3 separate regions of the Homo sapiens genome follow, and all the other regions are linked to region 2. The links come from fine-mapping of genetic effects on gene expression. A gene starts in region 2. Each other region holds a variant in brackets. All regions are shown on one strand. Distances are between the middles of the regions. Region 1 overlaps MFN2 (mitofusin 2). Region 2 holds the start of KIAA2013. Region 3 overlaps MFN2 (mitofusin 2).

Evidence for each region. PIP is the estimated chance that this variant, and not a neighbour inherited with it, causes the effect.
Region 1: its variant is fine-mapped to the expression of KIAA2013 in whole blood (INTERVAL, PIP above 0.99).
Region 3: its variant is fine-mapped to the expression of KIAA2013 in whole blood (TOPMed, PIP above 0.99). The same link has a PIP of 0.9 or more in monocytes.

The regions. Positions count from the first base shown.
Region 1 is chr1:11,991,580-11,994,365 of GRCh38, reverse strand. MFN2 (mitofusin 2) reads right to left here. Exons shown (of 19, transcript NM_014874.4): 4 at 1,676-1,811. Among named protein-coding and RNA genes, the nearest start is that of MFN2, 13 kb to the right of the region's middle. The variant A/G (reference allele first, on the strand shown) is at 1,159.
Region 2 is chr1:11,925,106-11,927,806 of GRCh38, reverse strand. It overlaps KIAA2013, which reads left to right and starts at 1,380. Exons shown (of 3, transcript NM_138346.3): 1 at 1,380-2,602. The coding sequence starts at 1,570. RefSeq lists enhancers at 1,161-1,455, 1,110-1,773, 1,774-2,436 and a silencer at 1,456-1,525.
Region 3 is chr1:11,984,344-11,987,129 of GRCh38, reverse strand. All of the region lies in intron 2 of MFN2 (mitofusin 2), which reads right to left. Among named protein-coding and RNA genes, the nearest start is that of MFN2, 5.3 kb to the right of the region's middle. The variant C/T (reference allele first, on the strand shown) is at 1,098.

The sequences.
Region 1 (2,786 bases), 67 kb before region 2:
CTGCCTGCCTTGGCCTCCCAAAGTGCTGGGATTACAGGCGTGAGCCACCGTGCCTGGTCATTATACAAGTTATAAATGTTTGGCCTAGTACTTTAGGTACATTGTGGCTTCACAAGGGCCAGTGTTAAAACTGCTTCCATGTCAAAGCAAAGAAAACTGCCTACATATTGGTTTGTCCTGGTGGGGAATAAAAAGGATCATTGGTTCCAGTCACAGGTATAGTAAATGTGGGTACTTTAAGGTTTGGAGCACTTACAAGGCTGTGGTAGAAACAGATACCCCATGGTTATCACATGTTAAACCATGTGTGTCTGTGGAATACTCAATCTCAATGTGCACACCTTTGACTACAGCTGTGGAAGTGTTCCTTTAAACAAAGTTGTGACCCATTTCAATCTGGATAAGGGCAGAAATGGTTCACACTCCATTATTTGTAAAGTTATCTGCTGTTAGCTTTCATTATTTTTGCTACACTCATTTTATTTGTATTTAAAATGTTTCAGGCAACCTAAGAACAAATGTAAAAGTAAAGATGCAGGAAAAATGAATACTTCATGTATATCAAGCTAGCAGTAAAACAAAACAAAAAAAACACGTATTTAACTTATTTTTAGATTTTTTTTTTTTTTTTTGAGATGGAGTCTCACTGTCGCCCAGGCTGGAGTGCAGTGGCCCGATCTCGGCTCACTGCAGGCTCCGCCCCCTGGGGTTCACACCATTCTCCTGCCCTAGCCTCCCAAGTAGCTGGGACTACAGGCGCCCGCCACCTCACCCGGCTAATTTTTTGTATTTTTAGTAGAGATGGGGTTTCACTGTGTTAGACAGGATGGTCTCGATCTCCTGACCTCGTGATCCACCTGCCTCGGCCTCCCAAAGTGCTGGGATTACAGGTGTGAGCCACCATGCCCGGCATATTTTTAGATTCTTTGCTTTTGTGATTTTTTTTTGATGCTTGCCTAACATGCATGCACTGTAAAAATAGTTAACAGGGAAATAACTTGAGATGATGGCTAGCTTTGTTTAATGTCTTACGAAATTTTCATGAACAATACAAGCACAATTGTTAAGAACACGTGTATTAAATTCATGTAAGTGGAATAAAAGTTTTATGAATGGAGAAAAAAAAACAAATACTGTATGATTCCACTTACGTGAGAC[A/G]TCTAGAATAGTCAAATTCATAGGGACAGAAAGTAGAATGGTGGTGGCCAGGGCAAGGGACATGTGGGACAGGGAGTTATTGTTTAATGGCTATAATACAAGCTTCAGTTCTGCAAGATGAAAAAGCTCTTGAGACTGGTTGCAAATATACCTACTAGTGAATTGTATGCTTAAAATGGTTAAGGTGGTAAATTTTATATTATATGCCTTTAACCTTAATTAGAAAATAAAAAAAAAAAAGTCAGGCTTGATGGCATGCACCTGCAGTCCCAGCTGCTCAGGAGGCTCAGGTGGGAGGATCACCTGAGCCCAGGGAGGTCGAGGCTGTAATGAGCTTCCAGCCTGGGTGACAGAGAACCCTGTCTCAAAAATCAAATAAATAAATAAAATATAAATTAAGAGGAAAGCAATGAATTCTGAAGCATGTCCCTGCCTGGAACGTTCTGTGACCTTGCACAAAGTGCCTCCCTCCCTCCTAGCCAGGAAGAAAGAAAGGGTGGGTGCCTCAAGGACTTACCGGCCAAAAAAAGCCACTTTCATGTGCCTCCGAGCCAGCACCTCACTGATGCCTCTCACTTTGGATAGGTAACCTTTGACGTCCAGAACCTGTTCTTCTGTGGTAACGGGGTCCAGTTCTGCATTCCTGTACGTGTCTGGAGGTGGGGATTGAAAATGGGTCACCACGTGGTCAGAGGAGTTCCACAGTCCCAAGTCTGGAAGGGCCAGAGCGCCGGCCCTGCTTACCCTAAACGAGTCCACCTCTGGCACCCTGCAGCCGACAGGCTGAGCTCCAGATCCTCTATGGTGGCCCCACGGTGTGGTGGTTAAGAAGATGGCTCAGGAGCAACACTGCCTGGTTCTGAAGCTGGTTCTTACCACTTTCTAGCTCTGTGGCCTCAAGCAAAAGAACCTTTCTGGGTCTTAGTTTCCTTAAGCACAAAACGGAGATAACTACATTATCTACTTCATGAGAACATCGTGAGGATCAAACGAATTGAAACACAAATGCTGTGAATGGCGGCTGGTAGAAGATGAATACTTAAATGTTAACTGCCTTCCTTGTTTATTTTTTCTTAACAAATATTTACGAAGTTCTTACCACATGCCAGGCACTGTTCCTTTCACTTTTCAAATTCATTCTCTCCTTTGGTCCTCTTTATTAACATGGCTCCGGAGTTAGTAAAAGGCAGAGCTATGATTTGAATTAGGCAGCCTGGCTCTGGAGTCCAGGCTCTTAACCACTCTATGTCACTTCTTTTTTTTTTTTTTTTTTTTTTTTTTTTTGAGACGGAGTCTCGCTCTGTCGCCCAGGCTGGAGTGCAGTGGCGGGATCTGGGCTCACTGCAAGCTCCGCCTCCCGGGTTCACGCCATTCTCCTGCCTCAGCCTCCCAAGTAGCTGGGACTACAGGCGCCCGCCACTACGCCCGGCTAATTTTTTGTATTTTTAGTAGAGACAGGGTTTCACCGTTTTAGCCGGGATGGTCTCGATCTCCTGACCTCGTGATCCGCCCGCCTCGGCCTCCCAAAGTGCTGGGATCACAGGCGTGAGCCACCGCGCCCGGCCTCTATGTCACTTCTTGAGGCCCTCCCTGCCCTGGCCCTGTTGGCCTCTTGCCACCCGCTGCCT
Region 2 (2,701 bases):
GCTGGAGTGCAGTGGCGCGATCTCGGCTCACTGCAACCTCTGCCTCCCTGGTTCAAGCGATTCTCGTGCCTCAGTCTCTCAAGTAGCTGGGATTACAGGCGCCCACCACCACGCCCAGCTAATTTTTGCATTTTTATTTTTTTATTTTTATTTATTTATTTTTTTTTTTTTGAGACAGAGTCTCCCTCTGTCACCCAGGCTGGAGTGCAGTGGCGCGATCTTGGCTCACTGCAAGCACCGCCTCCCGGGTTCACGCCATTCTCCTGCCTCAGCCTCCCGAGTAGCTGGGACTACAGGCGCCTGCCACCACGCCTGGCTAATTTTTTATATTTTTAGTAGAGACAGGGTTTCACCGTGTTAGCCAGGATGGTCTCGATCTCCTGATCTCGTGATCTGGCGGCCTCGGCCTCCCAAAATGCTGGGATTACAGGCGTGAGCCACCGTGCCCAGCCTAATTTTTGTATTTTTAGTAGAGACAGGTTTTCACCATGTTGGTCAGGCTGGTTTCGAACTCCTGACCTCAAGTGATTTGCCCATCTCAGCCTCCTAAAGTGCTGGAATTACAGACGTGAGCCACCACTCCTGGCCTCTGGTGGTTCCCCTTCCCCTCCTCCTCCCTTTTCCTTTCTTCTTCTTTCTTCCTCTTCTTCTCTCTCCTTTTTTTTTCCTCCACTTTTTCGTATTGTTCCAAGTGTTTTTTTGCAGTGAGGATAGTCTTTTTTTTTTTTTTTTTTTTTGAGACAGAGTCTCACTCTGTCGCCCAGGCTGGAGTGCAGTGGCGTGATCTCGGCTCACTGCAAGCCTGCAACCTCCGCCTCACGGGTTCAAGCAGTTCTCCTACCTCAGCCTCCTGAGGAGCAGGGATTACAGGCATGCGCCACCACGCCCGGCTAGTTTTTGTATTTTTAGTAGAGATGGGGTTTCACCATGTTGGTCAGGCTGGTCTCAAACTGCTGACCTCGTGATCCGCCCGCCTTGGCCTCCCAAAGTGCTGGGATTACAGGCGTGAGCCACCGCGCGCGGCGAGAGGATGGTCATTTTTACAGAAACAAAGTTGTTGTGTGTGTGTGTGTGTATGTTTTTAAATTTTGGGGCTGTTGAATCCATCAGTAGCAAAGGGGCCCAACACGTGTTCGGTTTGGCTGGCTCGATGTTTTTTTCACGAGTGAATTGGATGCTTCCAGTCCTCCCCAGACCCCTGCACTTAACTCCACTGGACTTCACTCTTCCGGCCTGGGAACGAGTGGTCCCGCCCCCGGCAGCTTTTGTCCCGCCCTCGCCGTGGCTCCGCCCCCTTCTCTCCGGCCTGCTCTCTCTCCTCCCTCCGCCCTCCCGTTTTCCATCTGTCGTAAAAGACACGGCGACGCTTGACCGCCGGCGTCGTTTGACGGCTGGAGGCCACCGAGAAGAAGGAGGAAGCAGGGGTGGCGGCTGCTGCGGCGGTTGCGGCGGGGGCCGGGGTGGGCGCCGCGGTCCGGGCCGGGCAGTGAGGCGCGGGCGGCCGGGCCGGTGGGCTGGGCGGCGGGCCCGGCGGCCGCCCTCGCACCCTTGCCCGCGCCTGGCGGCCCGATGTGGCTGCAGCAGCGGCTCAAGGGGCTGCCGGGACTGCTGTCGAGCAGCTGGGCCCGCCGCCTCCTCTGCCTGCTTGGCCTCCTGCTGCTGCTTCTGTGGTTTGGGGGGTCCGGCGCGCGGCGGGCGGCGGGCGGCCTGCACCTGCTGCCCTGGTCCCGCGGTGAGCCGGGCGCCGCCGAGCCGTCTGCCTGCCTGGAGGCGGCCACCCGCGCCTGGCGCGGCCTGCGGGAGCGCGGTGAGGTGGTACCGCTGGGTCCTGGAGTGCCGGCCCTGGTGGCCAACGGCTTCCTGGCCCTGGACGTGGCTGCCAATCGGCTGTGGGTGACTCCCGGGGAGCGGGAGCCCGCCGTGGCGCCGGACTTTGTGCCCTTCGTGCAGCTGCGCCCGCTGAGCGCGCTGGCTGAAGCTGGAGAGGCGGTGCTGCTGCTGCGGGAGGGGCTTCTGCGCCGCGTGCGTTGCCTGCAGCTGGGGTCCCCAGGTCCTGGCCCCGTGGCCGCCGGCCCCGGGCCCGCCTCCGTCTCTGGCCTTGCCGCGGGGTCCGGCCGCGACTGCGTGCTGCTGCAAGAGGACTTTCTGGCGCACAGGGGCCGACCCCACGTCTACCTGCAGCGCATCCAGCTCAACAACCCCACGGAGCGCGTGGCCGCGCTGCAGACTGTGGGGCCCACTGCCGGCCCAGCCCCCAAGGCCTTCACCAGTACCCTGGAGAAGGTCGGAGACCATCAGTTCCTCCTCTACTCAGGCCGGTCCCCGCCTACGCCCACTGGGTTGGTGCACCTGGTGGTGGTGGCCGCCAAGAAGCTGGTGAACCGCCTCCAAGTGGCTCCCAAGACGCAGCTGGATGAGACGGTGCTGTGGGTGGTGCACGTCTCTGGCCCCATTAACCCCCAGGTGCTCAAAAGCAAAGCAGCCAAGGAGCTCAAGGCGCTGCAGGACTTGGCACGGAAGGAAATGCTGGAGCTCTTGGACATGCCAGCGGCGGAGCTGCTTCAAGACCACCAGCTCCTCTGGGCTCAGCTCTTCAGCCCAGGTGAGTCCTGGCCAGCGCTTGGTCCACCCTAGATATGTCCCTCCCAAGTCTGCAGAGGTGACACTGAAGGTGATGGTGGGGTGGTTGAAACTTGGGCTT
Region 3 (2,786 bases), 59 kb before region 2:
CCATGTTGGCCAGGCTGGTCTCAAACTCCTGACCTCAAGTGATCCATCTGCTTCGGCCTCCCGAAGTGCTGGGAATACAGGCGTGAGCCACCGTACCCAGCCATATTATCACAGTCTATTTTTGTGTGACTGTCTCTCTTGCTCTCACTCAATCCTACATATCTTTGTAGCTTATCTTTTCATATAACAACATTTTAGAGGTCATGAGACTTGACTCCAAAGTCCTAGAGGTCTTTGGTCAAAGGTCAAAAGAGGCTGGGCATGGTGGCTCACACCTATAATCCCTGCACTTTGGGAGGCCCAGGCGGGTGGATCACTTGAGACCAGCCTGGCCAACATGGTGAAACCCCTTCTCTGCTAAAAATACAAAAATTAGCCAGGCATGGTGGCAGGCACCTGTAATCCCAGCTACTCGGGAGGCTGAGGCACGAGAATTGCTTGAACCTGGGAGCTGGAAGTTGCAGTGAGCTAAGATCGCGCCATTGCACTCCAGCCTGAGCAATAGAGCAAGACTCCATCTCAAAAAAAAAAAAAAAAAGATCAAAAAGAGGCGTACACACCAGAAGGAGTGCCCAGGGTAAGACTGGGAATTCCGACCCCAAAAGTGGACCCCTGCCAGGTCCCTCAGAGTTCCCACCACGGCGAAAGCTACTTCTTGAGCAGAGCCCACCAATCCCAGGAAGTCAAAGGGCAAAGGCCCTCCTGGATGAGGGGGTGTGTGCACAGCTGACTGTGCCTGGGTCTGTCACTGCCTCCCCAGCCACCCTAATCTTACTGCTCAGTTCTCCACCCAGCAGTAAGCTCACTCTCTCTAGATTGGAAATGAGGTGTTGCTCCCCAGCAAGCACACGTGAAAAACTTCCAAATGGGGCCAAAGTATGTTGCACAAGGTCCTGAAAAGCAGAAAGAACACCCGGAAGAGGTACATGAAGACCAAATGCCAAAACGGACTTTTAGTAACTAACCATCCCAAAGAGTGGGCAGAAGACAGACCGACCCAAAGCGGGATAGGGACCCACATGTGTGCCCAAACCAACAAGTTCTTGTGCAATGTTAATGATTCCTCTGGAGACAAGGGAAGGAAGTGACCCCACTTC[C/T]GTTTCTACATTCCTCCTCAGCATGACGCCACAGCTATGAGAGATGTTTTCTCAGCATGGAAGCCATATGTCCAGGGCTTAAAGACAGTACAGCTCTGAGAAAGGAAACTGCAAAGAAAATGCTACTCTCACTCTTCCAAAGCAGCAAAGGAGAGTGCGCTGAAATGAGGCTTGCCATGGCCTGGCAGATCAGACTGTTCGAGAAAGAGGGGATGTGGCAGGCACAAGAGGAAAGCCATCCAAAAGGAATAGAAAAGGGATCAGGGGTCAGGCACGGTGGCTCATGCCTGTAATCCCAGCACTTTGGGAGGCCGAGGCAGGCAGCTCACCTGAGGTCAGGAGTTCAAGACCAGTCTAGCCAACATGGTGAAACCCCGTCTCTATGAAAAATACAAAAAATTAGCTGGGTGTGGTGGCGCATGCCTGTAGTCCCAGCTACTCCAGAGGCCAAGGCAGGAGAATCACTTGAACCTGGGAGGTAGAATTTGCAGTGAGCCAAGATCTCGCCACTGTACTCCAGCCTGGGTGACAGAGCGAAGTCTCTCTCTTTAAAAAAAAAAAAAAAAAAAAAAAAAAAGGGATCAAGGATGGGGCATGATATAGCACTACCTATGACAGGTTTTGTAATCAGGCAGAGCTGGGTTCAAATTGTGACTACATTATTTCTGGGCTGCTTAAACTTAAGCAAGTTATTTCATCACAGAACCTTGGTTTCTTCATGTGTACAACAAACAAGACACCTACTGGAGAGAGAAACTGTCTCAAATTATCTTTTTTCTCTACTCTCACACCATAATCATCAACACAAGAGACTTCTGTGACCAAATGTGAGGGGGTTTCTTCCCCACACACCAACCAGCGGACAGCAGCTGGGTATCCTCTCATTCAGTTCCCATGCTGTCTACCTGGAGAGAGTGTCAGATCCCACAGGTTGAGGGCTCAGTCCCCAGGACTGCCCCGCCTCTCCACCACCACCCCTCAAACATACCAGTTGCAAGTCTGGGCCTCCAGAATTTCTCACCGACTGGCTTCAGGCTGGGGTTCCCATGACCCCCTCTTTGAGTTCAATTAATTTGATGGAGCAGCCTACCTAGCCCAGGGAAACACTTACTTACGTTTACCAGGTTATTATGAGGGATATCGCAAAGGATACAGATAAGGAGACGCTTAGGGCGAGGTATGGGGGAAGAGGCGTGTAGTTTCTGTGCCCTCCCTGAGCAGGCCTCTCTCTAGGAACCTCCGTGTGTTCAGCTATCCACAAGCTCCCTGAACTCTGTCCTCTTGGATTTTTATGGAAGCTTCATGACATCAGCATTCCTTCCCCCAGGATACAGGGTCCACCCCTCTCAGGGGAGGGTTTTAAGGCCCACAATCAGGTGGGGAAAGATTAGGGTGGAAGGAGAGCAGAAGGTCAGAGGCCTGCCCCTGAGGCCTAACACATCTAACATTATATCAAAAAACCATAACAAGGGCTGTGGATAGGAGTTATGAGCCTGGATCCGTGGATGAAAACCAATATCCTAATACCACAATACCATCTAAACTGTGAGAAGACTAAAGTTGATGACGCAAGCAACATGCTTCACTACAGTAAGAGCTAAAGGCAGCTTTACATGTTATAAAACAATAACAACAAACTCTACCAGCAAGATCACAAGACTCTCTCCATGAACACCCAGCCTTCAGGGA